4 linked regions of the Homo sapiens genome follow. The protein of the gene in region 1 interacts with the protein of each later gene in a pairwise test. Each region holds a gene or a part of one and is shown in the gene's direction. Other genes may lie near its edges. The genes, in order: ASPH, GOLM1, SMIM11 and PTH.

Region 1 (8,789 bases):
AAGAAGTATTTTCTTTATAGCACTTGTCACTATCTGAACTTGTCTTATTACTTTCATGTGTGTTGTCTTTGGCTCATTCTCTCTGTATCCCCAGCTCCTAGAATGTTCCTTTCCCATAATAGGTGCTCAATAAATATTTGAGTAGTGAATGAATGAATGGATTTAAATGGGGAAAGTAGTGCATTAAATCCATTGCACAAATTTACATTCTAAGGACTAATATTTGTATTCTAAAAGTAAAGATGTAGACACAGTTTGAAGTTCAATGCAAGCATATTAATTCACCTTTGACATAAGTGAAAGTTTGTGTTCCTTTTTCACTTGTTCTTAAATGTCACTTACTTAAACCTGCAGAGGGATAGATTAATTGCCTCAGCCGACTGAGGCTACTCTTTTTTAACATCCCTAAATGAGAATGGGTTCTTCTCATTGTGCCTCTAAGGGCACTAAGCAGAGAAAGCTGATGAACAACTTTAATGTTAGTTGTTTTCAAAAGGTTTCTGTAGCTATTTGCCAGAGAAGCATGTCTTCGTTCCATTTCATTTTTGTGTTTATGAGGAGAGGGCTGATTGCATCTGAGGGAAGTCACTTTATATGGCCTCTTATTGGTGAGAACTAATACTGGGAAATGTGTCTCACGTTTCTAGACCTACCCCATAACTATTTGAAGCATTTTAACAGGCAAGAGATAGGTTTAGAAAATGCAGTAACTTAAATTAACTTCTCCTGACTTTCATAGTCAGGCATTTTAGAACAAACTCTGCCCATATTTGAGGATCTACAGCCTTTTAAGCATTTTACACGTTGATTCTCTAATAGTCATGAAACAGACATAGTATGTAAAAGAATATGTAAAAGGGAGGAATGCCCGTGATACGAAAACAAAAGTTGATATTGGAACCCTGCATGTGACGTAATGAGTATTCTTTATCCGCATATCCGCAACCTTTTCTTTTTTTTCTCCAGTAGATACTGAGTTCTTACTGTGTGCCAGATAGAAGGCACTGGGTATGGAAACCATTTCCTTCCATCACCCTAAACAGTTAAAGTACAGTGTCGTGTATAGTAGGCTGTACTCGAAAGATAAAGCCGGCTTTTCTTTTAATGCTGTTTACCTGGTCATTAAAGTACGGACGTTGTGCGAACCATTTCCTTCTACTGGGAAAATCAAAGACTTTTTAGCAGTGTCATACTGTGAGACCCATTTAGTTTCCTGCTCAAATCATACAGATGAGGAAATTAATGCCCAGAGAAGTTGCCGAGTTCATTGAAGGTTGTTTAGTTCATGGAAACTCAACTAATTACTGGAAGAACCGAGACTAAGAACCCAGGTTTTGTTATTCATTTTGCCATGCTTGAATTTTAGGTTCTCTAGTATGTAATTGGAGTTGAACTAGATTATCAAGTTTTCTTCTGGCTGTCTCCATGAGTACTACATTTAATTATTGGAGAAAACTATGCTTTTGTCCTATCACCAATTACATTTCCCTTGACAAAAATTCTATTTGAAACACTATTTGAAATTTTAGTTTGAGAAGAAGTATATGTGTTCAAATAGTACGTTTTTTGATATGTCTTACATTGAGAGTCAGAAAATGACGGCATTGGTCACATTAAACATTATTATTTCTTAAGTTGTTGTGTAAACGTATGGGGAAAAAAGAACCCAGTCATTTGAAACATGCATTTTAGGGAAAAGGTGATTTCTTTTTTTTTTCCTGGCCAAACTTTATCTTGGTGGTTTTTTTGCTGAAAAGTGATGTTTGGAAGCTGGAATTTGGGGAATTTATATCACAGATTTTTAAAGCAAGTGTCTGCTTTTTATTTTCTTCAGCTTAAGCTGAAAAATGATAAAATGGTTTTCTACAGAGTTCAATTTTACTTTTTTTTCAGTTTTACTCTTTATAATATAAAAGAAACATGAATAAATTAGACTTCCTACCTTTATTTTGCATATAGAACTGGACTTGCATGGCCAGTTGGGCCCAGGGGAAGCCTTTTTCAAATTTATTGATTTGAAAATAGTTTGACAAAGAAGGATCATGATGTCCTTTTGGGCTTATTTTGTAGACACTCGTATGTGTAATGTTTTCTGTTTGTTTGTTTAGTTTTTCCCTTTTGAGTATCACCCCTTAACTCCCTGTATCTCCTAGCAGCTTTCCATCTCCCTGTTTATTTTGTCTGGGTGTCCTGCTACTACATTAACTTTTGCCACTAGGTGTCACTGTAGAATATATCCCCCTTTTAGTTTGAAGCTTGGGGTTATGTAACAGCAGGTTTTAATTATTATTTAATCCGTCTGTATATACTCAAAACTATTGATAGATAAGCACTTAAAAACTCTTAGCTACTTTTTAACTCTCTCAAGGTGTCTCAGTAGATTGAGCAGCCTTTTTGTTTAGGCTTAATTAGAATGAAATATATTCCTGTACTGCCTGTAAAACATTAACAGCTTCATTTGATGAGTATTTGTCATTTAGAAACACACTTCTGAGTTTAGTTTAGCTTCCTTTTTCTTTCTACTTTGAGTGTCTCTTAGATTACTAAGTAACTGAGGGATTCAATACACTGCTGATTGCATTGTGGAGCCCTTGAATGAAGAGGCCCTAGCAAAATTTTCTTTCTTTAGCCAAAGACCATCAGAGCCAATTGCTTAATCCTCCATTACTCATTCTAAGATGAAAACATAGGAGGACCATAATTCTTCCACTGCAAGAACCGTCAGCTATTTTGTGTTCAGTTCAACAGCATTTTGTCCATCCTGACCAAATCATATGAAACCAAGCACTAAATAATGTTCTGAGGGAGTTTATGAACACATTTTCCAGAGACCAGTTAACCTCTGGTGGTCTGTGGAAGTGAAAGTTCTATATTTTGGACTATATTTTAGTCTTGCTTTAAAATAATCTGTCTCATAGAGATTATTAGAAAATGAATGTATGACATTTTCATTTTCAGCCAGTTATCAACAGAGGAACTTGGATAAAGGCTCATAGGGTCTATCCATCTTGTTGTTAGTTAATATCAGATACTTAGCCCCTGAGCTCTCTGGTTCCAATAGAAAAACCCTTTTCTCCAGAAAGCTAGTGCAGTTTGGGAGAAGGAATATGATGACCTGGATCATATCTGTGTAAGAATCAGAACCAAGAATCGCTAAAAATCTCTGTTCCCAGCCTCCTTAAATGTAAAGAATTATTATCTACTTTCTTTTCAGAGTTTTGATATCACTAATGCTGATTTCATATGGCTTTGTGTTTCTCAGTTGTTTCCGTTAAAGTACGTCTAATAGTAGGGGTGAGTGCAAAACTTTGGAGACTATAAAAGTGTAGATGTCATCAGGCCATTGCATGCTTTGACTTTTTTGATGATTTATTCTTATTTATTTATTTATTTTCATGTTCCATAGCATCTTTGTGTTAAGTAAAATGTATATTCTTGAGATAGAGTTTATACTATGCTTTGAGGACTGCTCGATACATTTCTCTCAGCTTCTGGAGGTGTAAGTATCCATTTGCACATCAACTTTCAAGTTGGTGATTTGCCCTTAATGGCTCAGAAATCTGTAACATTATTTTATCTTACCCAGGCTCAGATATATTTAGTCTTTTGAGGTAACTCCAGCCACTGTTTTAATATCATGAAAATATGCAGCTTAGTTTGTGGCTTGGATACTTCCATATCACCTCTAAATGGCTTGACTTCATTCTGTACCAAGGTACAAAAATGTTTTTCAAATGAACTTCTCTTTAATAAACCCTGTATGTACATATAACCTATGTACACCCCACCTAAACCTCCGGGGAAAAGCCTCAGCCATCTATCGGGAAATGTGGAGGTGCAAGGGCTGCTTGCTTCATTATCTGCTGCCAGTGTCTGCTCTGCACTGCACATGTGGGTGTGATGAGTTTCTCTGGTTCGGTCCTGCAGCTCTGGCCATTTTTATTAGAGGACTAAGGATTCAGGATGTTCTTTTCTTCCCTGTGTACCACTGTGGGAGTATAGTCTGGAGGCCAGTGCTTTAACTTTTTTTTAATTATACTTTCTTCTGGTACTGCTGGGAGCCAAGATGGTATTTTCTTGTTAGTCATTATTTTTAAAATTTTAGTATTTTATTCCCCTGATGTGAGGGATGCTTCAGGCTTTTGTCCTGCATTTGATCTTTGTTTTTCAGGGATGTGTCTTGGTTACCTTTGGCTGATGTGGTTATCTTTTAACGGCAAATCACTGAATGTAATTCAGTTCCTATCAAATTGGCCACAGCTGAGGACAAATTTGGTTTAGATAACCTATTAGACTCAAAGGAAATGTTGAGCTCCCTTGGTGAATAACTCTTTTTAAAAAGAAAATCATCTTTTGAAGGATCTGGGCTATTCGGCCCCCTGTGAGATTCAGGTCACTTGCCTAGTCATGTGACTGTCATCATCTGCCGTAGATACTATGTGTGCTCCAGAGCGGAGAGCATTGGTGAATTGACTTGGTTGAGGGGTGGGGGGCTGGGGGGTGGGAGTGGTTGCTGTCCAGTTATAGTCAGGTTTCCAAGGGCAGCCACTATCTCTGTACTTGGAGAAATGCCAGCACTTCTCTCCTACATGTGTGCCCACACGTTGAACCCAGTGACTCATCCTGTACTTAAGACCCCAAGGATCAGTCTTAAATTTAAAGTAGGAGAATATCCTTTGATAATTTTATTTCACAACCAGCATTGTTGTAACTGCCTTTTCTCATATTTTACATAGGTTTGACAGCCATTTCTACCATTCCATAGTGCAGAGTCACTATTATTTTGTTGTTCTATCCTGTCTGTAACTTCTTTTTCTTATTTATTATTCTTCTAATATACAGTTTTTGTCCCTATCTTTCACAGGCTGCTTTCAATTTCAATTTTCTTGGTATACTGGAAAGACTCTTTTGGTCTTAGTTTCACTTGTAAATTTTATTTAGGACACTTAATTTTTTGACTTACATAAACCTCAAAATCTGTGTTGTAAATATTTGTTGAAAGAATATCTAGCATTTAACTACTTTTCCATTCTTTGAATCAAGTCAATTTGTATAAGATGCTTGTCACTGAGTTTTTGTAAGTTGTTTCATGGATTTGCTTTTTGGCAGAGAGCTAGTTCTCTAACCTTTATAATAAAAATATTTCTGTGTATTGCTCTTTAAAATTGTATGTATTTGAAATAGTACATATTTAAGCCTATAAATAATTGTAGAGAGTAATGCAGTGGATGCCCATGTACTGACCATATAGGCGAAGAAATGAAACATTATCAGATTCCTAGATTTTCCTCTCCTGTGGTATTCCTTCCTAACCATTGTTAAACATTTTATGGTAGTCATTATCATAAATACAGGTATATATGCACAAAATAATATATAACATGTAGCACATACACATTATGTATCCACACATGTAAACTGTATCTATTATTAAATCAATGTATTTGAAAACTGCCCAGGAAGTATATCTATATCCCTATGTGTAGAAATATACCTATACACACACACACATATATGTATATATACTGTATAGCACGTATTAAAAGTTTTGTGAACAGGCTTCTACTTGGCATACTATTTTGACAGCATTTGTTTGAAATTCCTCCAAACTCCAGTTCTTTATTTTCACATATGTAGTTCTACACCATATGAATATGCCTTGCTTTTCATTTAGCCATCCTATCGCAGGCCACTTTTTTTCTTTCAAATAATGCTGCCCTGTACATGTATGTGCCTATCTCTCCCCATGCATACATGTCTGAGTGTTTTTCTAGGGCATAATCTGGAATTGGAATTGTGGGTCATAGAAAGTACACACATTAGACTTTACTGGATATTGCCATTTTTTAACCCCCAAGTGGTTGTATCAACTTACAGTTCTGCCCCTAATGAATAAGAGCTTGTTCTGTGCCATCATCACATTGTCAACATTTGGTGAAGTTTAATATTTGCCAGTTGAGTGGCTGTGAAGTAGTACTTGAGGGTTTAAACTTGCATTTTTCTAATTACTAGTGAAGTTACTGGTAAGAGTAGCCTTGTGTTTCCTCCTTTGAATTGCCTGTTCGTATATCTTGCCTATTCTTCTGTTTTTGTTTTGTATTTGTAGTATTGATAGGTAGATTTTTTTTTTTTAATATCCTGAACCTTTTGATTATTTTTGATAAAGGACTTCTCCTAGTCTGTGTTTACTCACATTTTCATTTTTTATGGTATACGTTGTTGAACAGAATTTTAAGATTTTAATATATTAATAGAATTTTTCCATTTTGTACTTTGTGGTTCACACCTTTATACTTTTTGTAAGACACATAACACAGATGTTATGAATTATTCTTGTATTTTCCTCTAAAAGATCTGAAACGTTGCTTTTTTACATTTAGATCTCTGAACCACCTGGTGTAGCATTTTATTGTATATTTTGTTATTAGGGATCTAATTCAGTATTGTTTTTTAAAAAGGGCCAATGAGAATGTCCTGTACTGTTAGTTGATTTGTCATCTTTTTACCGTAGTCTGCAGCATCACCTCTTGTGTATGAATACGTCGGGCTCTATTTTGTTCCAGGCATGTAGAAGCAACACCAAACTGAATTGCTCACTATAGCTTTGTAATGAGTCCACATATCTGATAGGGCATGTCCTTCTACCCTGCCTTTTTCACTATTGTGTTTGCTGCTTTGGGACCTTTCCTCATCCATTTCTCTAGATTTTAGAATCTGCTTATCAAATATGTTCATGAAAAATATTTGAGAATTTTTACTGGCATTGTATTGAATCTATAGAACAATTTGGGACAAATACAGATGTTTATAATACTGAATCTTCTTATACATGCACCTGGCCGGCTGGCCTGCTTTCTCTTCTTTCTTCTTTCTTTTTTCTTCTTTCTTCTTTCTTCTTCTTCTTCCTCTTCCTCCTTCTTCTTCTTCTTCTTCTTCTTCTTCTTTTTTTTTTTTTTTTTTTTTTTTTGAGTCATGACCTCGCTCTTTCACCCAGGCTGCAGTGCTGTGGCAGCCTTGACTTCCCAGGCTCCGGTGATCCTCCGACCTCAGCCTCCCTGGTAGCTGGGACTACAGGCATGCACCACCATGCCTGGCTAATTTTCTTATTTCTTGTACAGATGGGGTTTTGCCGTGTTGGCCTGTCTGCTCTCAAACTCCTGGGCTCAAGTGGTCTGCTCATCTCGACTTCCCAAAGTGCTGGGATTACAGGTGTGAGCCCTGCACCTGGCCTATAATTTCTTATGTATTTAAGTCTGACAATTTTTATAATCTTATTTGAAAGTCATATACATCTTTTATTAGATTAAGTCTGGGTACTTTGTATTTTAAAAAACATTTTCAATAGTATTTTTAAATTAACATTTTTTAATGAAACTTAAAAAATATGTATCCAAATTGAAAGAGTTCTGTAATGACTCCACCATGTAGATGCTACAGCGGTTAACATTTTGATAGATTTGCTTTGTCATGTCTATTAGTCAATCTTATTCTTTCATGCCTTTCGAAGTAAGTTGCAGGTATTAGTATATTTCACTTTCATAAACATTTACATGTGCCTGTAGCTAACTAGAGCTTAGCATTTGTTTTTTTTTCCCTCTGAGGTAAAATTTTCACGTAGTGAATTGCACAAATTTTAGTGTCTGATCTGAGGAGTTTTTATATCCATTTCTACCTTTGTAAAACAATAACCTATTAGGATAGAGAATATTTTCATCACCCTGTAAAGTTCTCTCAAGCCCCTTTCTTGCGTCCACCTCTGCCACCAGAGGCAGCCATTGTACTACATTTTTTGATCATAGATTAGTGTTTTCTATTCTAGAACTTCTTTTGCAAGTACTTTTTTTTGTAAAGTCTCCTTTCACTCAGCATAATATTTTTTAGTTCGTTTATGTTGTGTACACGGTCACTTGTTCCTTTTTATTGTCAAATAGTATTCCAGTGTCTGACTATAGCACAATTTTTTTTAAGCTTTTATTTTAGGTTCAGGGGTACATATACAGGTTTGTTATATGGGTAAATTGCATGTCACAGGGGTTTGGTGTACAGATAATTTTGTCACACAGGTAATAAGCTTAATACCTGCTGAGTAGCTTTTTTGATCTGCACCTTCCTCCCACCCTCCACCCTCAAGTAGGCCCCAGTGTCTGTTGTTCCCTTCTTTGTGTCCGTAGGTAGTCAATGTTTTGCTCCCACTTATAAATATTAATAAGAACATGGTTCTCTGTTCCTGTGTCAGTTTGCTTAGGATAGTGGCCTCCAGCTCCATTCGTGTTGTATAGCACAGTTTTTTAACCCCATCTTTTATTGGTGGACACTTGGGCTAGTTTTGGGTTATTATGAATAAAATTCTATGAATATTATAGAAGCCTTTTTTGACATATGTTTTTATTTCTCTTGAGCAAGAGAGGGATTACTGGGCTATAGGGTAGGTGTATGTTTAGTTTTATTAAGAAACTGTTCAACTCTTTTGCAGAGTAGTTGTACAATATATTTTATACTCCCACTAACCATGTGTGGAATTGGTTGTTCTACATATGTACCAACATTTGGTGGTGTCAGTCTTTTTAATTTTAGCCATTCTGGTGGGTATGCCGTGGCTTCTTACTGTAGTTTACATTTGCAATTCCCTGATGAATAATGATGTCAAGCACTTTTTCTTGTGCTTATTGGCTACACCCATTATCTTTAGTGAAGTTTCTTTTTTGCCCATTTCTAATTTTATTGTTTTTTGTTGCTGAGCGGTAATTCTTTATGTATTCTGGATAGAAGTTCTTTTCAGATATATATAG
Region 2 (8,789 bases), on another chromosome or scaffold:
CGCAGTGGCTCATGCCTGTAATCCCAGCACTTTGAGAGGCCGAGGTGGGCGGATCATGAGGTCAGGAGTTCAAGACCATCCTGGCCAATATGGTGAAACCCCATCTCTTCTAAAAATACAAAAATTAGCTGGGCATGGCAGCACGTGCCTGTAATCCCAGCCACTCGGGAGGCTGAGGCAGGAGAATCGCTTGAACCCCGGAGGCGGAGGTTGCAGTGAGCCGAGATTACGCCACCGCACTCCAGCCTGGGCGACAGAGTGAGACTCCATCTCAAAAAAAAAAAAAAAAAGATTTTGTTTACCAGCCTGCATACACATATAAAATATGTAAGTTAAACCCTTTGAGTAGGTCTCTTGAAAGCCTTTTGTCCTCATCTTCTCTGGCTGCTGCCCACTCCAGGGAAGAATAGAGTAATGGGTGCTCTCATGCTCTAAGTATGAGGGACACCTTCTCACGTGTCTCACAGTGGCAGCTCCATTTCCTCTCTCCATTCTAAGGAGATGCTGTCATTAGCTGTAGATATCCGTTCCTTCCTAAAACAGTGGCACCTTTCTTTTATCTTGAGTTGATTATCTCTTTAAAAAATTGAGATTTGGGTTGTTAGTTTCTCCATGTTCTGCCTAGAATGCACCCTTGTATTTAGGGCCATGCTGTCTGTAGATTCCGAGTCCAAGTGGAGTACACATAATGCATGTGCTTGTCCTGGAAGCCAGCCCTTGCGTCCCTACCATTTCCAGAGAGGCAGCAGACAGATCTGATTGTGAGCAAGTATGGCTAACCCCCAGCACTTGTGCTCTGATAGTCCTGTGACATCAAGACAGAAATGATGTAGCTTATGTTTTATGTGCTAATTTTACAGGGAGAAACCAGCAGAAACTGAGAGGAGAAGATGACTACAACATGGATGAAAATGAAGCAGAATCTGAGACAGACAAGCAAGCAGCCCTGGCAGGGAATGACAGAAACATAGATGGTAAGAATGGGGCCTACATCGGTGACGAGGTCACCTTTCATTTCTCTTTCCTGGTCCTTCACCGTGATTATCCAATGAATCCCCAAAATTATATTGTAATTAATGGGTCATTTCAAGGAGATCGTCTGTTCTTTAGGAGCTTTTAAACCAGGGGCAGTGGAGGGAAGTGAGGGTTGAGAAGCCCAAGGTGATGAAAACCATTCGGAAAGTCTGCATCGTTTCTAGAAACATATTCAGTGTGGCTCAACTCTTTAAGTAGGATGATTTTTCAGTGACATTTAGGGATTTCCCAACAAAATGGCTAGGTCACTACTTGATCAGTCTGCCTCCCAGATGAGAAGCCCCAGTATGTGCATAGAGCTTCCAAGCAGCTATGAAAGCTGCCCTTTGTATTATTATTTTGAATTTTTGAAGAGTCCAGGCCAGTATCTTGTAGAATGTATCAAACTCTGGCCTTGTCTGTTTGCTTGTGGTGGATTCAGGCTGATGAATTCTTGCTTCTCCCCAGGAGGCATAACAGCAGGTGGTCCTACAGGTGATTGGTTGATCCCTTAGCTAACATGGTGCCCACAAGGTCTCAGAAGGCCATTTTCCTTTTGATATTAATACGTCATCTAGAAGAGGATGCTTTGAACTTGTGTAGCTTTACCATCCATTGATGAACATTGCCCAAGTGGTGACATTTTACATGCTGCCATCACAGCACATTTATTACCTGACATTTTTTAAGGAACTCCTCTCCCTCCTCCAACACACTTGTTTGTTTTGGTATCACTATGGACTCATAGTATTCTTTCTTAAAATTCATTTTTCTGGGCCAAGTGTGGTGGCTCACACCTGTAATCCCAGCGCTTTGGGAGACCAAGGCAGGCAGATCAGCGGGTCAAGAGATTGAGACCATCCTGGCTAACACGGTGAAACCCCGTCTCTACTAAAAAGAGAAAAAATTAGCCAGGCGTGGTGGTGGGCGCCTGTAGTCCCAGCTACTCGGGAGGCTGAGGCAAGAGAATCGCTTGAACCCGGGAGGCAGAGGTTGCAGTGAGCTGAGATCGCACCGCTGCACTCCAGCCTGGGCAACAAGAGTGAAAATCCATCTCAACAACAACAACAAAAGAATCCAAGCCATGTGACTGTAGTTTCCCACAGCCTGAATACTGCTGATTATAGAGTCATGGGGGAGTTGAGTGAGTTCGCCTGGTCTCTGTTTTCTGTAGAGTGGCAGCTATACCCAGAGACTTGATGAGACTCAGGTCCTGGCTCAAGCCCTCGGTAAGGTGAGTGGTGGTGTGTTCTTTGGTTCTTTCATCGGGAGGCACGTCATGTCTGGCGTCTTTTTTTTTTTTTTTTTTTTTTTTTGAGATGGAGTCTCGCTCTGTCACCCTTGCTGAAGTGCAGTGGCGCGATCTTGGCTGACTGCAACCTGGCGTCTTTCTTTTTGTGATGCCAGTTGATGGTCAATGCCTGTATCAATTCATTTTTATGTTATTTGTTAATTGGAATGTTCTTAGAAATAGACACTTCAGCTGGGCGTGGTGGCTAACACCTGTAACCCAGCACTTTGGGAGGCCGAGGATGGTGGATCACCTGAGGTCAGGAGTTTGAGACCAGCCTAACTAACATGGTGAAACCCCGTCTCTACTAAATACAAGAAAATTAGCCAGGCGTGGTGGCACATGCCTGTAATCCCAGCTACTTGGGAGGCTGAGACAGGAGAATCGCGTGAACTCGGGAGGCAGAGGTTGCAGTGAGCCGAGATTGTGACATTGCACTCCAGCCTGGGCAAGAAGAGTGAAACTCCGTCTCGGGGAAAAAAAAAAAAAAAAAAAAAAAAACCTCAGTGGTATTGTTTGTATAAGGTAGATAGGATAAATGCTTGATTTCTTTCCTTTTTAACAGTTTTCATGACTATGAATTACTTCCCCATCTTCTCTGAGGGTAACTGCTTTTAAAATATCATCATAAACTTCAGAATTCAGCAGAAATCCTCAGGGCAGCAGGAGTCGTTGTAACAACTACTTCACTTCAGTTTCGGCCTTGCTGATCCTGCCGATGCCCTTTTTTTTTTTCTTCCTCAGATGGAGTCTCACTCTGTTGCCCAGGCTGGAGTGCAGTAGTGCGATCTCGGCTCACTGCAACCTCTGCCTCCCGGGTTCAAGCGATTCTCCTGCTTCAGCCTCCCGAGCAGCTGAGATTAGAGGCGCACGCCACCACGTCCAGCTAATATTTGTATTTTTATTAGAGACGGGGTTTCACCATATTGGCCAGGATGGTCTCCATCTCCTGACCTCATGATCCGCCTGCCTTGGCCTCCCAAAGTGCTGGGTGGCGTAAGCCACCACGTCTGGCTAACAATACCTTCTTTTATTACCATCTGGGCAATGCATTATTCATTTAATGTTTTAATACTTACATTTTTTTTACCTTTTCATTTTGAAATAATCTAGACTTCTTTAAAAAGCAAAAAATTTCTGTATACCCTTCACCCAGGTTCCCCAAATGTTAACATCTTATATAACCACAGTAAAATTACCAAAATAAGGAAATTAATGTTTATACAATGCTATTATCTAATCTGTAGACTTTGTTGAAATTTAGTGAGTGTCCAATTCATGTCTTTTTTTCTGGGTTCAGGATTATACACTGCATTTATTGTCAGACCTCTTTAGTGTTCTTTATCGTGGAGCAGTTTATCATTTATGTTGTTGGTCTTTTTTGAAGGGTAGTGGCTCAGTTATTTGGTTGAAAGTCCCTCAATCTGTGCTTGTCTGATTTTTCAACAATGTCCCCCTAAAAATTATCTTTTATATTTCTCCAGGATGTCAGTTGTTTCAATTGGCAGAGTTGTTTGGAATTTTTAGAATCCAAGTCCTAATTTGAATTTTCAGCTGTCTTCATTTAGGCAATTTTTTAAAAAGGCAAATGGCAAAATACACTAGCAGCCAGACTTTGAAGCAAATACAAACTCTCTGTTGTCATTGACTCCACTCATTTATGTTCTTGAGCATGTTTCACGGTCTGGTCACTGTCTTACTTCTATTCTTTTTTTTTTTTTTTTTTTTTTTTGAGACAGAGTCTCACTCTTCTTGCCCAGGCTGGAGTGCAATGGCACAATCCTGGCTCACAGCAGTCTCCGCCTCCTGGGTTTAAGTGATTCTCCTGCCTCAGCCTCCTGAGTAGCTGGGAGCTGGGATTACAGGCTCATGCCACCATGCCCAGCTAATTTTGTATTTTCAGTACAGACAGAGTTTCACCATGTCCACTAGGCTGGTCTCGAAATCCTGACCTCAGGTGATCTGCCTGCCTCAGCCTCCCAAAGTGTTGGGATTACAGGTGTGAGCCACCACCCCGGCTCTAACCACCTTTTAAATTGGGCCTAGTTTCCTACTAAATGATGGGCTTTGCGGTGAAGCCTTTTTGGATCTCTCATTCCCTACACTCAGGTGTCCTAAGGACTTGACCTTGTGCAAGGTTTTAAACAAAGTAAGTAGGTAAGGTAAAGAAAATGAGTGCCTTGTCAGCTCTTTGAAGAAGCTGAAGAAATGTCAACATCAGCTTCAACATTATTTTAAGATTGTGTCATTGAAACAGTGAGACCTTACTTGCTCCAGGGAAATTAGAAGAAAAAAGCATTAGCTCCAACTTTATTAAGAGCCTTTAACAGATACCGTTAATTTAATATGGCAGGTATTTAATGGTCATTAAACTACCATTTAATGTGCCATAGTTATAAATCAAGACCGTGGTTTTAGGTTTTATTTGTGATGTGCCTTTTTATGTTTTCTGTGTGTTAAAAGGATAGAGTAAGATCAGATGGTAGAAGCTACATACAGACATCAGCTCTGTAAAGGGAGAGCTTTGGAGTCACAAGAGCTGTCTGAAGCTGCAGACAGCTCTCAGGAGGCAGCGTGTGCCATTAGAAGTGCAGTAGCAAGGGAGTCACGCCGCACAGGAGCGTGGTGATTATATTTAAAATGTCATGAGTGCACTTGATACTGTCCATTTTCTATGGCATATGGGGCATTATGTCACTGTTACAAACAAGTATGGAATCTTTAGGTGCTTCAGCTTTGTTTCATGGCACATTGTTGGTCATCCATTTGGACACTTTGAAAGGGGAGGAGTTCCAGCTGGGCGTGGTTGCTCACGCTTGTAATCCCAGCACTTTGGGAGGCCAAGGCGGGCGGATCACGAGGTCAGGAGATCGAGATCATCCTGGCTAACAGGGTGAAAACCCGCCTCTACTAAAACTACAACAACAAAAAGAAATCAGCCGGGCGTGGTGGCGGGCGCCTGTAGTCCCAGCTACTCGGGAAGCTTAGGCGGGAGAATGGCGTGAACCCCGGAGGTGGAGCTTGCAGTGAGCTGAGATCGCACGACTGCACTCCAGCCTGGGTGATAGAGCCAGACTCCGTCTCAAAAAAAAAAAAAAAAAAAAAAAAGTTCCCTTATCCCCTTCACAGGGCATGCAATGGGGGTATGGCTTTCTTCTTCAGTGCCCCACAGCTCAAACCCCTAGGGGAAGCATGCGGACGGACAGGTTGTGGGGAGGATGGGTTTCAACCCCGCGGCAGCATCTAGGGTTGAGTGGTTACAGCTCCTGGAGCCCCACTGGGTGTGTGTTGCAGTGCGTTCTTTCAGCTTAGCTGTCCACAGGCAGCTTGTGTTAATCAGTTCAATTAGACCCTCTGCCTTATCGCAAGGACAGAGGGCTTTCTGTATCCCAGGTTCTTGCCCTAGTGTACTGAAAAAATCAGATCATGTGGGCTTGGAGAATGAATGCAAGATTTATTGAGTGGTGGAAGTAGCTCTCAGCAGATGGCTGGGGAGCCAGAAGGGGGATAGCATGGGAAGGTAGTCTTCCTCTGGAGTCTGGCTGCTCAGCAGCCGGGATCTCCTACTGTCCTTGGCCGAATTTCCCTTGGCGTCCGAATCGTTCCACCATCAATGGCCTGCCAGCGTCTTTCGATGTGTTCTTCTGCCAGTGTGTTCCTCTTGACGTCCAGCCGCTTGTGTGTGTGCCCGCTGGGGTCTCAGGGTTTTTATAGGCACAGAATGGGTGGCATGGCAGGCCAGAGTGGTCTTGGAAAATGCAACATTTGGGCAAGAAGACAGGAGTCCTTGTTCTCATTAGGTCCATGGGCACAAGCCTGAGGGTGGAGCCCTTGCCAGTGACCCTGCCCTTCTCTACCCAGCACTTCCCTGTCCCCCTCCCATATCACCGTTGCCATCTTGTCCTTGATGAGGAATACAACTCCCAATTACAGTGTTGCTGTGGGAGATGCAGTCCTCTTTATGACAGTTTCTAGAAGTTGATAAGAAAATGGGACCTGCCTAGGGCTAGTATCTCATTTAATACTCTATAGAATATTATGTGTTTTTCCTTTTTAGTTTTTAATGTTGAAGATCAGAAAAGAGACACCATAAATTTACTTGATCAGCGTGAAAAGCGGAATCATACACTCTGAATTGAACTGGAATCACATATTTCACAACAGGGCCGAAGAGATGACTATAAAATGTTCATGAGGGACTGAATACTGAAAACTGTGAAATGTACTAAATAAAATGTACATCTGAAGATGATTATTGTGAAATTTTAGTATGCACTTTGTGTAGGAAAAAATGGAATGGTCTTTTAAACAGCTTTTGGGGGGTACTTTGGAAGTGTCTAATAAGGTGTCACAATTTTTGGTAGTAGGTATTTCGTGAGAAGTTCAACACCAAAACTGGAACATAGTTCTCCTTCAAGTGTTGGCGACAGCGGGGCTTCCTGATTCTGGAATATAACTTTGTGTAAATTAACAGCCACCTATAGAAGAGTCCATCTGCTGTGAAGGAGAGACAGAGAACTCTGGGTTCCGTCGTCCTGTCCACGTGCTGTACCAAGTGCTGGTGCCAGCCTGTTACCTGTTCTCACTGAAAAGTCTGGCTAATGCTCTTGTGTAGTCACTTCTGATTCTGACAATCAATCAATCAATGGCCTAGAGCACTGACTGTTAACACAAACGTCACTAGCAAAGTAGCAACAGCTTTAAGTCTAAATACAAAGCTGTTCTGTGTGAGAATTTTTTAAAAGGCTACTTGTATAATAACCCTTGTCATTTTTAATGTACAAAACGCTATTAAGTGGCTTAGAATTTGAACATTTGTGGTCTTTATTTACTTTGCTTCGTGTGTGGGCAAAGCAACATCTTCCCTAAATATATATTACCAAGAAAAGCAAGAAGCAGATTAGGTTTTTGACAAAACAAACAGGCCAAAAGGGGGCTGACCTGGAGCAGAGCATGGTGAGAGGCAAGGCATGAGAGGGCAAGTTTGTTGTGGACAGATCTGTGCCTACTTTATTACTGGAGTAAAAGAAAACAAAGTTCATTGATGTCGAAGGATATATACAGTGTTAGAAATTAGGACTGTTTAGAAAAACAGGAATACAATGGTTGTTTTTATCATAGTGTACACATTTAGCTTGTGGTAAATGACTCACAAAACTGATTTTAAAATCAAGTTAATGTGAATTTTGAAAATTACTACTTAATCCTAATTCACAATAACAATGGCATTAAGGTTTGACTTGAGTTGGTTCTTAGTATTATTTATGGTAAATAGGCTCTTACCACTTGCAAATAACTGGCCACATCATTAATGACTGACTTCCCAGTAAGGCTCTCTAAGGGGTAAGTAGGAGGATCCACAGGATTTGAGATGCTAAGGCCCCAGAGATCGTTTGATCCAACCCTCTTATTTTCAGAGGGGAAAATGGGGCCTAGAAGTTACAGAGCATCTAGCTGGTGCGCTGGCACCCCTGGCCTCACACAGACTCCCGAGTAGCTGGGACTACAGGCACACAGTCACTGAAGCAGGCCCTGTTTGCAATTCACGTTGCCACCTCCAACTTAAACATTCTTCATATGTGATGTCCTTAGTCACTAAGGTTAAACTTTCCCACCCAGAAAAGGCAACTTAGATAAAATCTTAGAGTACTTTCATACTCTTCTAAGTCCTCTTCCAGCCTCACTTTGAGTCCTCCTTGGGGTTGATAGGAATTTTCTCTTGCTTTCTCAATAAAGTCTCTATTCATCTCATGTTTAATTTGTACGCATAGAATTGCTGAGAAATAAAATGTTCTGTTCAACTTATAAAACTTGTCACAGCTCTGTTTTTTTGCTTTTCCCCTTCATCCTCTATTAGATCCTTAAAGAATCCACCCTCAAACTGTGGACTAAGGATGGCAGTTTGCCTTAAACCTTCTGTGGAATGAGATGGGCTGTCAGGACGTCTTCAACCCACAGTACCCCGAAAGCTTTGTGCTCACCACGTGTGCACTCTGCATGCTTTCTCCAGGCTGCCCTAGGGATCACGACAGATTCAGCCAACAATGGAGAGGGCTGTGGGCTGTTCCAACAAAATAGAACAGTCACCTCTGGTGACACGCATCTGTAGTCCTAGCCTCCCAAGTAGCTGGGACTACAGATGCATGTCACCATGCCCGGCTAATTTTTTGTATTTTTAGTAGAAATGGGGTTTCACTTTGTTAGCCAGGATGGTCTCAATCTCCTGATTTCGTGATCAGTGTAAAGACTCAGAGAGCTGTTGCATAATAACTTCATGTGAGTCTCCAAAATTTGATACTAAAGGCTTGGTGGTCTCAGGGGGCCAATGTGGCTGCAGCCTGAGGGGCCAAATGGAGAGGGCAGAAACGAAGTAGGAGAGGCAGAAGGGGTCAAACTGGCATTCTGGGTAAAGACTAGGTCATTCATTAGAGAACAGTGGATTTTAAGTAGAGTTGTCAAGTGACCATGCTTGCATTTTATGATC
Region 3 (5,934 bases), on another chromosome or scaffold:
ATCCACATCTAGTTCTGAGTCATAAAGAGTTTCGATACAATCATAGGAACATTCATCTACATACACTGTGATTTCATGAATTTCAGTTTGTTGAAAATCAGGCATCAGTGGAAGGGAGACTGGCCCCGGGGTTAGAATGTCCTTCCAACTGGCTCCTCATGAGGGAGCTGTGGGACCTTCAACCTCTCAACCTCCAGGAGCTCTTCTTTCCTTGCTCATATAACCAGGGGGTTGAGTAGGTCCCCTTGAAAGTTATTTCCAGCCCCCCGGTTCTGTGAGCATATTGTACACACTAACTAGGTTCAGATCAACTTCGGTTAGACTATTAGAGGGAGGTGCACATGTATCCCCCACAGTGGAATCTCATTGGTATTTCATATAATAAGTGATTGACAGAAATAAGGATTTCATTGGGATAAAATCCTACCTGGTCCTCTAAAATAATGATTGCTCAACCAGAGCATACCTTTTCACTATTTGGGAGGGAATTTTTAATCACACAAAAAGCACATACATATCATTCAGGTCATGCTAACCATGTGTATGGAACTAATATTGCTTTGAAGTACTATTTGCAATATATAGAATTTCACACAAAAAACCTACTAGTGCAAAGAGTGAGTAATTCAAATGCATAGTGTTTCCCTAGACTTTATTTTAGTGAATGGGGTTGCAAGAGCAGTTAGTAAGTAGCCATGTTTTAATGTTTTGAGTTCTGTCGTGTTTTATTTTACCAGCAAGTGCCAGTGCTAGTGAGTCTCTAGAAACAAGAGAAAATCCCAGAGTACTAAAGCTGCAGTTTCCAGAAGCAAGGTCTGATTCACCCTTACTTTGTAGATGAAGGGGCAGGAGCTCAGAAAGAAAGGAGCTCATTGCCTGACCCAGGTCACACGGTCAGTCGGTGGTAAAGTAGAGCTCTGACCCAGGCCTCCGGGCTCCAGCTCCTTTCACTGGATCTGGCTGCTGCCTCAGAAGCAAGGGCCTGGGTGATCAGCAGGTTGCACGGTTGAGCTGTGAGAGACCAGAGTCCCCACGCCTGTGGATGACCGGTGGTCCCCTCCATGAAGCCAGCCGCAAGCAAGCAGCAAAGAGCAGAGCTGTAACTTGACTGTTGGCCCCATGGGGATAGAGACCTTTTCTGCTTGGTCTCCAGTGTAGCTCCAGCCCCCTATCCTCGTGCCTGTTGCAGAATAGGTGCTAAGTAAATATTTGTTGACTGAAGGATCATAAAAGAAACCTCCCATATCGGTGATGGAACATTTAGTTAGCATGGCTTCTTTCTTCTTGAAGGTTCTTGAGCACGTGCCCCTGCTGCTGTATATCTTGGCAGCAAAAACATTAATTCTCTGCCTGACATTTGCTGGGGTGAAAATGTATCAAAGAAAAAGGTTGGAGGCAAAACAACAAAAACTGGAGGCTGAAAGGAAGAAGCAATCAGAGAAAAAAGATAACTGAAGGTGAGTCCACAGTACCCAACCTTGCAAATGGGAGCTGGCCAGTGGGTTGGGGTGACCAATCAATGAACAAGAGAGGTCTGAGACCTCCCTGTCCGTCGGGTCTGAAGGGCTGCGTGGGGGCATGTGGCCTCACCTGTTCTCTAAGGTAGAACTGCTCCATAAAGGGCCAGGTGTGCAGATCCTGGTCCTGGGATGTGAGTGCTGCTGAGCCAAGGTGCACGGAGCATTAGTTCATCCTTCTTGAAACCTGCGGTGGCAATGGTTCTTGACAGGTATTGGGTTAAGAATTGAGGACTCAGTGACAGCTGTGGACCTTCTTCCCAGAGAAGCACACATACTGAAACCATCTGCATTTGTGTGTGGGGAGAAGTTTGCAGATGTGGGGAGTCACAGGTCATTTGAAATTCCAAGATTAAGAAACCCTGTTACCTTTAAGATAAAGTCTGACTCCATGGTATGACAAATAAATCCCTTCCCAGTCTGGTCTTAACCCAGACCTCATTTGCCACATGTGCCCACTCCCCATCCCCCTGCAGGCCATTCCTCAGCCACCATGGCCTTTGGCCTTGCTTATTAGGTTCTTCCCAAGGACCTCCTCACCAGGCCTGAGGGTACACTCATCGTTGTCACCCAGTGCCTATCACAGTGCACACTGGTGGGCTTAGAACACACTTGGGGAGTTACAATACATCAAGGCACCAGAAAGTTCCTGTTAAGCCCCTGTTACAGATTTAACACATGACAATTCACAGTTACCTTGATTCCAGTGTGTTGATGCAGTTTCTTCACTTTGCAGGTTGAGTTCTGTACTTTAAAAATCAGGGGATTCAGCCAGGTGTGGTGACTCATGCCTGTAATCCCAGTGCTTTGGGAGGCAAAGGTGGGAGGATCACTTGAGCCAATGAGTTCAAGACCAGCCTGGGCAACATAGTGAAACCCTGTCTCTACAAAAATTAAAAAAAAAAAACAAAAAAAACCAAAAAAAAAAACCAAAAAAAAACTTAGCTGCACACTTACTGGGTGTGTAGTCCCAACTACTCAGGAGACTGAGGTGGAGGATTGCTTGAGGCCCAGAAGTTCAAGGCTGCAGTGAGGCATGATCACACCACTGCACTCCAGCCTGAGTGACAGAGCGAGACCCTGTCTAAAAAAAAAAAAGGATTCAAATATGGTGGCGGTGGGGTTCTAGATCTGTGGTTCCCAAACCTAGCTAATGATCAGAATTGCCCAGGTGTTTGTTTAAATGAAGATTCCCAGCTTCAGCCCAGAGAGATTCCATAATGGCTCTGGTTAGGTTTGGGTGTTGGTTTTTGTTGTTGTTTTTAAGATAGGGGATCCTACTCTGTCATCTAGGCTAGAGCGGTGCAGTGGCACAATCTCGGCTCACTGCAGCCTCAGCCTCCTGGGCTCAAGCAGTCCTCCCAACTCAGCCTCCCGAGTAGGTAGGACTACAGGAGCACGCCACCACACCCGGCTAGGTTTTTAAAACAATTTTTAGTAGAGAAGGGGTCTTGCTGTGTTGCCCAGGCTGGTCTTGTACTCCTGGGCTCAAGCGATACTTTCGCCTCAGCCTCCTGAAGTGCTGAGGTTACAGGTGTGAGCCACTGTGCCCAGCCTCTGTTCTTTTGAAAACCCATTAGATAATCCTTAGGTTGTCTTCTCAGCAACAGGTCATTGTAGGAACCACTGGGCTAGGTGGCCTCCCAAACCCAGCCCACTCTGAGATTCCATGCTGAATTCCCTTGCAGTGCCGTCAGGCTTGTTGAGGCTAAAGACCTACTGATGAGGAATAGTAGCAACACCTACTAAGTGGTTATTCTGTGCTGGGGACTTTGCTAAGCATTCATGCACAACTGTGTTATTCAGCCCTGATGACTCTGTGAGGCATGTTCAGATTGAAAGAATGGCTCTCTCTACATGGTGAAGAACAGAGTCAGAAATTGATCCCAGGTCAAATGCATTCGATCAGCATGGCCAAGCCCAAGCTGTGCTACCTTCCTGAATACAGGCAAGTGAGCTCGTAGGGATGCTTCACTCTGTTACTCACCACTTCCGGCAGCTGCCCACTCGCTGGTCCCCAGTGAACTGTAGGCTTTTGCTAGATAGAAGAAGTTACTTTCTTTCTTTCTTTCTTTCTTTCTTTTTTTTTTTTTTTTTAAGGTGTTTGATTGACTGAAATTTAGGAGTAGGCATTACGATGGGGAGGAGAGAAATTAAAAAGGGTGAGGGAAGGCAGTTTAAATTAAAATGTTGCTGATTGAATTTATATTCCTGACAATCCCATTTTGTGTGCTAAACTGATCAAAGGAAGAAAAGATGAGATGGAAGATCATAAAGGCTTTGTTCCTCCCACAAACATCAGCAGAGACCTGCATTTAAGTCAGGCCTGGATGGCTTAGAAGCAACTCAGGGAGTTGGTCTTCCTCTCTAGGCTGGCAGCTTCTTAAAGACTAGAGACTTGCTTCAAACAAAAAGCGTTTTCAGGCCGGGCGCGGTGGCTCACGCCTGTAATCCCAGCACTTTGGGAGGCCGAGGCGGGTGGATCACTTGAGGTCAGGAGTTCAAGGCCAGCCTGGCCAACATGGCGAAACCCCATCTCTACTAAAAATACAAAACTTAGCTGGGCGTGGTGGCACGTGCCAGTAATCCCAGTTACTTGGGAGGCCGAGGCACGAGAATCACTTGAACCTGGGAAACAGAGGTTGCAGTGAGCTGAGATTGTGCCACTGCACTCCAGGCTGGGTGACAGAGTGAGACTGTTTCAAAAAATAAATAAATAAATAAAAGGGGGGTGGGGTGTTTCAGATGGAAGGGAAACTGATGCTAAAAATACATTGGTTAATAAATAGACTTGAGTGATAGACTTGAGTGGTGTCCGCTTGTTAAGTTTAAATGGCTGAGCATACGTCTTTATGCTGAGCAGTAAACATCGGGTATACTCTTATCAAACATTTCCTACTCATCCCTTTGGTATTCCCTTCTAGATTCTGCCATGTAAATGTCAGCTTGAGTGGACTCCAGCTGAGAAGAAAGAGAAGAAAGACTTAATTATTGAATAATTTGTCAGAGGATAAACTCCCAACCTAGACCTTTCACTTAAAATAGTGTGAATTTGTATATGTTTTTAAAAGAACCAGTACTGGCCGGGTATGCTGGCTTTTACCTGAAATCCCAGCACTTTGGGAGGCCGAGGCGAGTGGATCGCCTGAGATCGGGAGTTTGAGACCAGCCTGGCCAACATGGTAAAATCCTGTCTCTACTAAAAATATAAAAATTAGCCAGGTGTAGTGGCGCGCGTCTGTAATCCCAGCTACTCGGGAGGCTGAGGCAGGAGAATTGCTTGAATCCGGGAGGTGGAGGTTGCAGTGAGCCTAGGTCGTGCCACTGCCCTCCAGCCTGGGTGACAGAGCGACTGCGTCTCCAAAAAAAAAAAGGTAAAATTAAAATTAAAAAAAATAATAATAACCAGTATTTTGTTTACTAAAATAAAATGCCTTTGTAAAAAAAGGAGTCGTGGCCTTTGGAATAAGTCAAATTGTGTATCTCTTTCTCTTTCTCTTACACAGCACCCTCTACCCCGTGTTGTAAAGCGGGGGGTTTTGTAAACTTACACCTCCCCCACCATCTCAAGCTGGGGGGTCCCAGGTGAGAGGCTTCCATAGAGGACAAGGTGGTGCAGAAACATCTGCTGTGGGAGTGGGGTCCCCAGCACTGGGTGCTTCGGCCAGCTACCCCCGACCCCAGGCCCCCTCATAGGCTGCCCTCCCATACCCTCCTTTCTCGTCTTTTCCTCCTACAGGTGCTACACCCCTGTGAGAGTGTTTTGGAGTGTTTTCATTGTTAGGGTGGAGGGAGGCTGTGTGTGTCCAGGAAAGGTGACTCCTGTGTTAACCATGAGGGTCCTCGCAGGGAGGAATCGTTGGGAGCCCTAGGGTGTGTTTTGTCCTCTCCTCACCTGTTTGCTCCTTGGGATTTGCTGATGAGAAATGAAGGGTAGGGCACCCTAGGAGCCACTGGAACCAAGGGCAGGGAGGATGGGAAGATGTTTTACTCAGCACCTAACACACGCAGATCCCTGTGACAAGAGCTCATGCTCTCCCACTTCTTCGCAAGACCCCAGAGTGGATGGGGAGTGAGGTGGCAGCAGCTGGCACTGGAAGCAGTGCGGAGTGTTTGGTCTGGTTGCTGATGGCTGCATGGGAAACTTGCAGGAGTGTGTGTTAGTAAACGTCTCCCCGTCCTGGCCCAGTTTGTGTCGAACATGCGTTTTCCATGTGGGGAGTCAGGGGAGTTCCATCTTAAATTGCACTGTGCTTGCTGGATGCTCTTCAGGACAATTTAGGAAGCAGGAAAGAATTTACAAAGTTCTGAGGACAGACAGACCCTGCTCCTACAAGCTGCAGTGCTCACCATAGTCAAAGTGGACTTTCACGTAAGCCCAGACCTCATTCTCTCTGAAGGAGGCCGCTCCAGCCTT
Region 4 (9,334 bases), on another chromosome or scaffold:
AATAATATTAGTGGTCTGGTTACTTCACTGGAAAGGGCCACAGAAAATTTGAGACTTTACTTCTCAATTAAATTGCTATGGCTTTCTTATGATTCAAAAAGTGATGACTCAATTGTGTCTACTTCTTTCCCTCTCTTTTTTTAAGAAACAGAGAACTTTGCACAGGCAACTAAAACCTTTTCAATTAAATAAAGATCTAAAGGTTTCCATAAGTCCATAAGTGACTCTCTAGGTTTGCTCTGTGACAAGACAGAGACATTCCTTACTGTATTTAGAAAGACAGTCTCATCCCAGGCATCCAGTAACTCGCTATTTCCTTCAGTCCCTGCCTCTAGAGATGCCTCTTTCTGATCGTGGAAACATTGCATATCATCTTAACACTCCCCCAATCCATATAAACATGTAGAAAGCTGAAAACTCATGCAGGGTTAGATGTTCACTGACAGAACACACAAAAAACAACAAGTAATATTGTATTTGTGAATGTGGCTACACATTTTAACTTCGAGGAGCTACTCAGATATAATGGATCCCAGAGTTTATAACATGAATATATAGAGATCAGTGGCCTTCTAAATGCTGCCTATTAGAGAACCACAATCACAGCGTCCATCAATAAAAATTCTAGAGAAAGAAAAATAAGGAACAGAATACTATCATAAATACTTGGAATATTAATCATTTATTATGTGCTAAGTCACTTTAAGCATTTTGTTCATTGCCTCTAACTATAAACAAGTTTAGGGCTGGTGAAAGGAAGCAGAGAGGAAAGTTTTTTCTGACAGATCAAAAGGAGCTTGGTTGGCTGAGTACAGTGGCTCACGCCTGTAATCTCAGCACTTTGGGAGGCCGAGGCGAGTGGATCACTTGACCCCAGGAGGCAGAGACCAGCCTGGGCAATGTGGTGAAACTCCGTCTCTTCCAAAAATACAAAAATTAGCTTGGCATGGTGGCATGCTCCTGTGGACCCAGCTACTCAGGCTGCTGAGGTAGGAGGATCCCTTGAGCCTTGGAGGCAGAGGTTGCAGTGAGCTGAGATCACACCACTGCACTCCAGCCTGGGTGACAGATTGAGACCTTGTCTCAAAAAAATTAATAATAATAATAATAAGGAGCTCAGTAACTCATTGCACAGAGGGGCTTGGAGCAAAAGAATGACTCAACCATTAAGATAGACACTATTCAGAATAAGTTCTAGAGATCTGCTATACAATATAGTGTTTATACCTAATAATACTGCATTGTGAACTTCAAAATTTAAGAAGGTAGGTCTCATGTTGTGTTCTTCTAAACGACAAGGAAACTTTGAGAAGTGCTGGCTATGTCTATTACCTTAATTGTGGTGATGGTATCACAGGGATAACATGTATGTCCAAACTCATCACATTGTACACATTAAATATGAACAGTTCTTTGTATATCAATTGAACCTCAGTAAATTTGTTTTTTTTTTTTAAAAAAAGGGAGTAGAAATTATCCAATCTGTTCACAAAACATGGAATTAGAGAGATGTAGCTGGATTTTTCAGCCCTGGAAGCTTGTTGATGTCAAATTCCCAAAGCTGTACTAATTCCTATTGAGCAAACAGAAGGAAAAAGTATCCGTCTTAACTTAAACCTTCCATAAGGGAACAGGGCACAACACATGGTATTTTGTCCTTCCCAAATGTGAGGAATACATTAGATTGTTTGACCCTAGCTTCAGTACTTTAGAATGCTAAGAAAAGCTGACGTTTTCAAAGCAAAAAGCTGTGCTCAGCTCTTCTCTGTCACGGTGTCATCAGTCTCTTGTGCCCACATATCCCCTAACCCTGTCCTCCTAAGTGATTTCCTTCTATCTAATACCTGCAGGTCCAGAACGTGATGGTTCAGATAAACTATATATCAAGTCTTGGCAGCTATATTACTGCTTTGTGGGAAGGTCAAGTAGTCCTTTGAAAAATTTGAAGGACACAACAATATTACTCATGCACACATTTAGAGTTTAGAGAGGACTGCAAGACAAAACTCCTTGGCATTCACACAATAATCTTCCAAAATTGTACCCAAATCTTACTTCTTTGGAGTCATCATCCATTTCCCCATTTTCCCTCTCCATCCACAAGCATATACTCAATATTCAGTCTTTTTTTTTTTTTTTTTTTGAGACAGGGTCTCACTCTGTCGCCCAGGCTGGAGTACAGTGGCATGATCAGAGTTCACTGCAGCCTCCATCTTCCAGGTTTGGGTGATCCTCCCATCTCAGCCTCCTGAGTATCTGAGACTACAGGTGTGCACCACCACATCCTGCTGATTTTTTTTTTAACTTTTAGGAGAGATGAGGTCTTGCTATGTTGCCCAGGCTGGTCTCAAACTCCTAAACTCAAGCAATCCCCTTGCCTTGGCCTCCCAAAGTGCTGAGATTACAAGTGTGAGCCACTGCGTCTATTCAGTCTTCATTGCCTGCATGCCTGTGCGCATGCAGTTCCCTCTGTCCTTTCTTACCTTCTCTGATGGAAAACACAATCACCTGTCAGGACAGTTCAGCTTTTCAGTAAAACAGCTTCCAACAACTTTAGGGAAATTGTCACTTCCTCTTCTGTGCTTTTATAAGTCTTTGTTCATACCCCTATTATAATACCTATCACATTATATTATAATTATGTGTTAAATTTCAAGGCATTGATTATGTCTCAATTATCCAGTGATTAATACAGCCCCTGGCAGATAGTATTCAACGCATTTTTTTGAGTGAACAAATGAGTGACCACTGTCTGAACTATTTGCTTTATTTTTCTGTAAAACTAGTTTAATAATGTGGTTGCCTTGGTATGACAATTTATTCTATAAATAAGTGTAAGAGAAAGAAGAACAAGAAAGTGATAATTGCATCACTCCTAGAAGGCTGTCAATTACATTAAACTTACCCAAAGCGGGAAAAATCTCCAAATCAGAATATTAAGCATGGCTTTATAATAACAATGCAAAAAATGTGTTTATAAAACCATTTGTGTATGCAGAAGATTGAAACTGGACCTGTTCCTTACACTATATACAAAAATTAACTCAAGATGGATTAAAGATCCGAAACTATAAAAACCCTGGAAGACAACATTGGCAATACTGTTATAGACATAGGAATGAGCAAAGATTTCATGAAGAAGATGCCAAAAGCAATGGCAATGAAAGCAAAAATTAACAAATGAGATATAATTAAACTAAAGAGCTTCTGCACAGCAAAAGAAACTATCAACAGAGTAAAGAGACAACCTACAGAATGGGAGAAAATTTTTGCAAACTATGCATCTGACAAAGGCCTAATATCCAACATCTATAAATTAAACAAATTTACAAGAAACAAACAACCCCATTAAAAAGTGGGTAAAGGACATGAACAGACATTTTTCAAAATAAGACATACATGTGGCCAACAAGCGTATGGAAAAAAGCTCAACATCACTGATCATCAGAGAAATGCAAATCAAAACCATAACGAGCCACCATCTCACACCAGTCAGAATGGCTGTTATCAAAAAGCCAAAAAATAACAGGTATGGGTGAGGTTGTGGAGAAAAAGGAACATTTATACACTGTTAGTGGGAGTGTAAATTAGTTCAACAATTGTGGAAAACAGTGTGGCGATCCCTCAAAGACTAAAAGCAAAACTACAATTTGATCCAGCAATCCCATTACTGGGTATATACTCAAAGGAATATAAATCATTCTATAATAAAGACATATGCATGCGTATGTTCATTATAGCACTATTCACAATAGCAAAGACATGCAATCAACCTAAATGCCCAACAGTGGTAGACTGGATAAAGAATACGTGGTGCCTACATACCATGGAATACTAGGCAGCCATAAAAAAGAACAAGATGGAGCTAGAGGCCACTATCCTTAGCAAACTAACATAGGAACAGAAAACCAAATATCTCATGGTCTCACTTATAATTGGGAGCTAAAAGATGAGAACACATGGACACAAAGAAGGGAACCACACACACTGGGGCTTACTGAAGGATGGAGAGTGGAAGGAGGCGGAGGATCAGGAAAAATAACTAATGGGCACTAGGCTTAATACCTGGGTCATGATATAATTAGTACAATAAACCTCCACGACATGAGTTTACCTATATAACAGGCCTGTACATGTACCCCTGAACTTAAAAGTTAAAAAATAAAAATCCATTAGTGGCTGGGTGTGGTGGCTCATGCCTGTAATCCCAGCACTTTGGGAGCGAGAGGTGGGAGGACTGCTTGAGCCAAGGACAGCCTGGGCAATTTAGCTACACTCTGCCTCCACAAAAATTTAAAAATTAGCTGGTTGTGGTGCTGTGTGCCTATAGCCCCCACTACTCAGAAGGCTGAGGTGGAAGGACTGCTTGAGCCCCGAAAGTTGAGGCTGCCATGTCCATACCACTGCACCACTCCAGTCTGAGTGACAGAGTGAGATCCTATCTCAAAGAAAAAAGAAAAACCATCTGTATTTCCAATTCTTCTTCTCAACAGAGTATAGCAGAAAAATGACACACAAACATCACATGTAGAGTTTGCATCAGAAGAGGTCTTTAAAAAGATCAAGACAACAGATTTTTACAGTTAAAAGAGACCTCTTGGTTATCTAGTTCAACTTTCTTCTATGTATGAATCTCTATAGTATGCCTGATAAATGCTCATCTACCTTCTACTTGAATATTCTCAGTGATGGAGAAATCACTATTTGAGAAGGTACTTGATTCCTTATTTTGACAATTATAATGTCCAAGTTAAACCCAATGAACCCAGCCCTTCCTTCTTAAACCACAGAGAATACTCCTTCTTCCTTATGGTAACCCTATAAATAATTAAACACAGCTATAAAGTCATCCCGTCTTTTTTTCCTCAGACTTTTCTAGTTTCATTCAACTACTTCTCATGTTATAGTTTTCAACATTTTCACCAAACTGATTGATATCCTCAGTGTATGTTCCCATTTGTTTCTACTGCTTCTAAAATGGAGCCTGGAGCAACACTCTAAGTGAGGTTAACCCAGAGTGGAGAATCTCCTAGGACAGGACTAGTATATATCTCTCATTATAAACTCCATACGGTTACTATTCAAATTTGTACTGGCTCTTACCTAAGGTAGAGTCAAACCTTGACAATGGCTAGTAGGAAAAAGGATGACATGAAGCCAGGATGGGACCAGAGCTGAGAGAACTGATCCCACTCTGGCACCGGATCTTTGGTGGGAAGGCAAAGCTGTCTAAAGGAGTCCTAGATATATCAAAGACATTCAGGGTGTTTTGACAGGTGGACCAGGAAAATATTGCTGGAGGAATATTTGAAGTCAGACATGTGGCAGCATCATGCCTCCAATAGGTTTTGGAGCAGGCTCTCATCATCCCTTAGGGAACATGAGAATAAAGACCTAACCCCTAGGGGAAAATGTTGCAAAGAGCTTTTGCTGTGTTTTCAGATGACTTTGCAAATTAAAGTCAAGAAGACTGGAGTTCAAAGAAGGGCTGTATTTCTAGGCAGAAACTGAGGTAGTAAGAATCTGGTGTCATAAAGACCTTTGTTGAATTCCATCTTTTCTGCTTTCCAAGCCTAAGTTTCCTCATGTAAAAATGGGGATAAGCACTTAACTTTAGTACTTTAAGTACTAACTTTAAAGGACTGCTGTGAAGATCTAGTGGGATAATATATGTAGTTAGGCATGCAGTTAGTGCTTATCAAATGTTATTATTATAGATTAAGATGCACAAATAAAATATAAGTTAAATAAATTTTAAAATAATTTCACTTTTGAAGCTTTTAAAGTAATTATGTACTAAGAGCATTTTCTCAAATTATTCTTAACACTTCCTTTAAGAAAAGGGCTATATCTGTTTTTTGAAAGATGACCAGAAGTGACATGGATTGGTTGAAAATGGCTTGTAAAGTAAGCCTAACATTTATGATTTATTACCATAAAAACTGTACCAACAGTACGGTTATAACAAATACACTTATTTTTGGGTTTTATTTTCAAGTAAGATAATGACTTTATCATAAACCTTTGAAATCAGTCTTTTTACAGTATAAATTCAGATTCATTAATCCACATAGAATTTTTCTCGATGGTATAATTCTGTATTTGTTAAAAGTCTTTGCATAAGCCCCTTGTCAAGCCAAATGCTGTTTTCCTTTTAGTATCCAATTATCTGAAACTTAAGAAGAGTGTGCACCGCCCAATGGGTGTGTGTATGTGCTGCTTTGAACCTATAGTTGAGATCCAGAGAATTGGGAGTGACATCATCTGTAACAATAAAAGAGCCTCTCTTGGTAAGCAGAAGACCTATATATAAAAGTCACCATTTAAGGGGTCTGCAGTCCAATTCATCAGTTGTCTTTAGTTTACTCAGCATCAGCTACTAACATACCTGAACGAAGATCTTGTTCTAAGACATTGTATGGTAAGTAAACTTAAAAATTCACTTCTGAATCTCATGAGATTTTGATAATCAAGTTATTATTTAATGTGTACCATTTCTACAAATACCATGTTGTTTCTTCAAGGTAAAATGCTAAGAAGTTTGAGTTATGTTTAATATAAAATGCCACATACAAAATAAATTAATGCTACTCAAATCACAAAATCCTTTTTGATTAAAGTCTTCTGAGATACCTTGCCTTTTAAAACCTCATCTGAAATTACAACAAAAAATCATTAAAATTTGGCATGCTATGCTTTAATATAATAGTATCGGTGTCAAAATTTTGAAATAAAACAGGTTGATGGTGAATGAATAGTTCTGATTTAAATAATCTTTATAAATTTATTAAGTGGAGTTAATATTCTGTTTTTCCTGCAGAGTATTCTTATCTAGATTATTTATTTTATGGCTCATAAAGAGCCCAATCTGTATACTAAAGTTGGATAAGCCCAGTTTGACTAGTAAATATTTATTTCCTTTACATAAATGACAGCTGTATTCTGAAAACAGTATTTCCTATGCTATTTCTAAATGATGCAGTTTCCCTGTAAAATAGGAGTACATAACTACTCTATGTGTATGTTAAAAGGTAGTACACTGAGCATTAAGGAAAAGCACTTCTATAATAACAGCCTTTGCAAGTACTGAAATGCAGATTAAGGCAAGAATATCCTATACTGATGTGAAACGAGGAAAGAGACAAAAGTTATATTAAAAGATAATTGTTAATAAAATAAGTTGAAGAAATAAGCTACAAACAAGCATTCCATTCAGAGATAAAGCTCGAAATCCATATCACAAGTAATTAATCAGATGATTTTTAAATGCTTTGACACATTATTTTTAATGCTAGGAGAAATGTGAATTAATTTAGTGAAAATCTCTAGATTAGCACCTATTAGTTTGGTATTTATGGTTATTACAATGCCTGAAATGAAGGTTACTTAAGAAAAGGATTTGCTACGTAAATAGTGTTAACAATTTACACTATGAAGAAAATTAGGCATTTTCAAGCAAGTTATAAACATTTAGGTATAATCAACATAAAATGCAGTGCGGGGGGATTTCTCAAAAATAGGCTCTTTCATTCCTCTTGTAGCTTAAGATTTCTGCAGTGTGACAGAAGGGAGCATGAGAAGCATGGCTCACCAGCCAGCCTCTATTGTCTATGTAATTAGAAGCTTCAGAACTCACTAATACCACTGTACCTTTCACTGGCGCATTACCCCATAAAACTTGAGATGAGGTGAGATCTGAGTATAAAGATAGGTCAGAAGTATTTTAAAGGGCTTAATTTGCCAAAAAGAAAAGTAAAAAGCTAGAGACCCTTTTTGCAGAACATTTGGTGACCACACATTTGAGGGAAGATGTGGCATTAGATGAAGCAGAAGCAAACCCTGCTCTTAGGGGCTCATCTAGGTGAGTGCACAGCCTGTGACACTACAGGGAGAGGCTCAGTAAACTGAGATCCAGCATTCTGTATGACAGAGGCATTGCTTATCACAGAGGTTCTGAATTTTAAGTAGGAAGTACATAATGAAGAGGGCTTTAAAAATTGCTAAGAAAGCGAGTCACCAGGGCTGGCAGTAGTGTAACAGGGCCATCCTGAGCTGTTAGGAGAGTAGATGCAGGGAGGGCTGGTGACCTCCGTGGGTTTATCTGTTGGAGACTCTTCTCTCCAAATCCCAGGCCTGGCTTCCAGCACCATCCAGCTGTGCCCAAGAAGCCACGCTGGTCTGTTCTCCAAGTCTTTTAAATGGTGCCTAATTTTTCTAAGTGAGCTTAGCAATGAGAAGAAAAAAAAAACATGAATTATTTTTCTGGAAAATCAAGGAGACATGGGTAACAACAGGCACTAATAAATATTTATAGATGAGTGAATGAGGAAATAATTACATAAAAAAGGTCAGTGACAATTGATAAATGACAAGGAAATATTTAATTAGGTAAAAGTAAACCATTGCTCTCTATACTAGGATAGACTTTATCTACTTCGTCTTTTCCTAAGTCAGCATGTTAATTCTGGGGGAGGATCATAAGAAAGGAAATACTTTTTTAAAAAAAATTTAAAAACATGTAACAAAGCAAGGGTAAAATATATGTATATACATAAGTGGTATGACTGTAAAACTGTACTTTCCATTAGTTATTAGCTGAGTTAAGAGAATGATCACGTTGAAGTACTGTGTGGACTAGAAATGTACTCTGTCATCATGCAATGAAATGTTGCTAACATTTTAACATAGCTCATTTATGCAGAATGAATTCTGGCAGTTTACCCCAAGTCACAGTTAGGACGGTAGATGGTGAGATCGCAGATGCGTGATTATCTAGATTCAGTGTTACATTTTTGATGTTTATCACTCAGTGGATTTTTATTAATATGCTGATTAAGTTATTTACTTGGCCAGTCATTGTGCTAAATAGTTGCTCTTTTGTGTTTCATTGCCTTGATGTTTGAGTGTAATCTAGCATTTTAATACAGTGTTTATTTTGCATGATCTTTAACAAATGTTTTAAGCAATTTTAAAAAGGCAGGATGTTATTGACATTATACATTGAAGTCTTAACATTTTAATATTTATAGTGCTTATTAGTTTGCAAAATTGTATAATTAGGAATTATTTCAGAGACAATGTTTTCTTTTTCAGGTGAGTAGTTGCCGCTTAATATCATTGGAGTACATTCTTTATACTGTTTGTGAAATTAATACTAGCATATTAAGTGTACAAATAGATTTAGAAAACAATAAAAAATTGCATTCTAAAAAAATAAATAAAAATAAATAAATAAATAAATAAATAAAACTTGCACAAGAAATCTCCAAAAGATAGTTAGGAGCATAAAACTAATTTATAAGTTAAATTATGTGTATATATAATGTATACTAAT

What was found.
Region 2: the proteins of ASPH (region 1) and GOLM1 interact in binary tests that used the Homo sapiens proteins (3 or more experiments, as listed by UniProt).
Region 3: the proteins of ASPH (region 1) and SMIM11 interact in binary tests that used the Homo sapiens proteins (3 or more experiments, as listed by UniProt).
Region 4: the proteins of ASPH (region 1) and PTH interact in binary tests that used the Homo sapiens proteins (3 or more experiments, as listed by UniProt).

Annotation. Positions count from the first base shown.
Region 1 is NC_000008.11:61,704,583-61,713,371, reverse strand, and holds part of ASPH (aspartyl/asparaginyl beta-hydroxylase), read left to right. Parts: intron 1-8,789.
Region 2 is NC_000009.12:86,025,467-86,034,255, reverse strand, and holds the end of GOLM1 (Golgi membrane protein 1), read left to right. Parts: intron 1-860; coding exon 861-974; intron 975-6,362; coding exon 6,363-6,439; 3' UTR 6,440-8,110; downstream 8,111-8,789.
Region 3 is NC_000021.9:34,384,188-34,390,121, forward strand, and holds the end of SMIM11 (small integral membrane protein 11), read left to right. Parts: intron 1-1,290; coding exon 1,291-1,455; 3' UTR 1,456-1,457; intron 1,458-4,441; 3' UTR 4,442-4,964; downstream 4,965-5,934.
Region 4 is NC_000011.10:13,492,998-13,502,331, reverse strand, and holds the start of PTH (parathyroid hormone isoform 1 preproprotein), read left to right. Parts: upstream 1-6,334; 5' UTR 6,335-6,421; intron 6,422-9,334. UniProt on the Homo sapiens protein: Parathyroid hormone elevates calcium level by dissolving the salts in bone and preventing their renal excretion. Acts by binding to its receptor, PTH1R, activating G protein-coupled receptor signaling.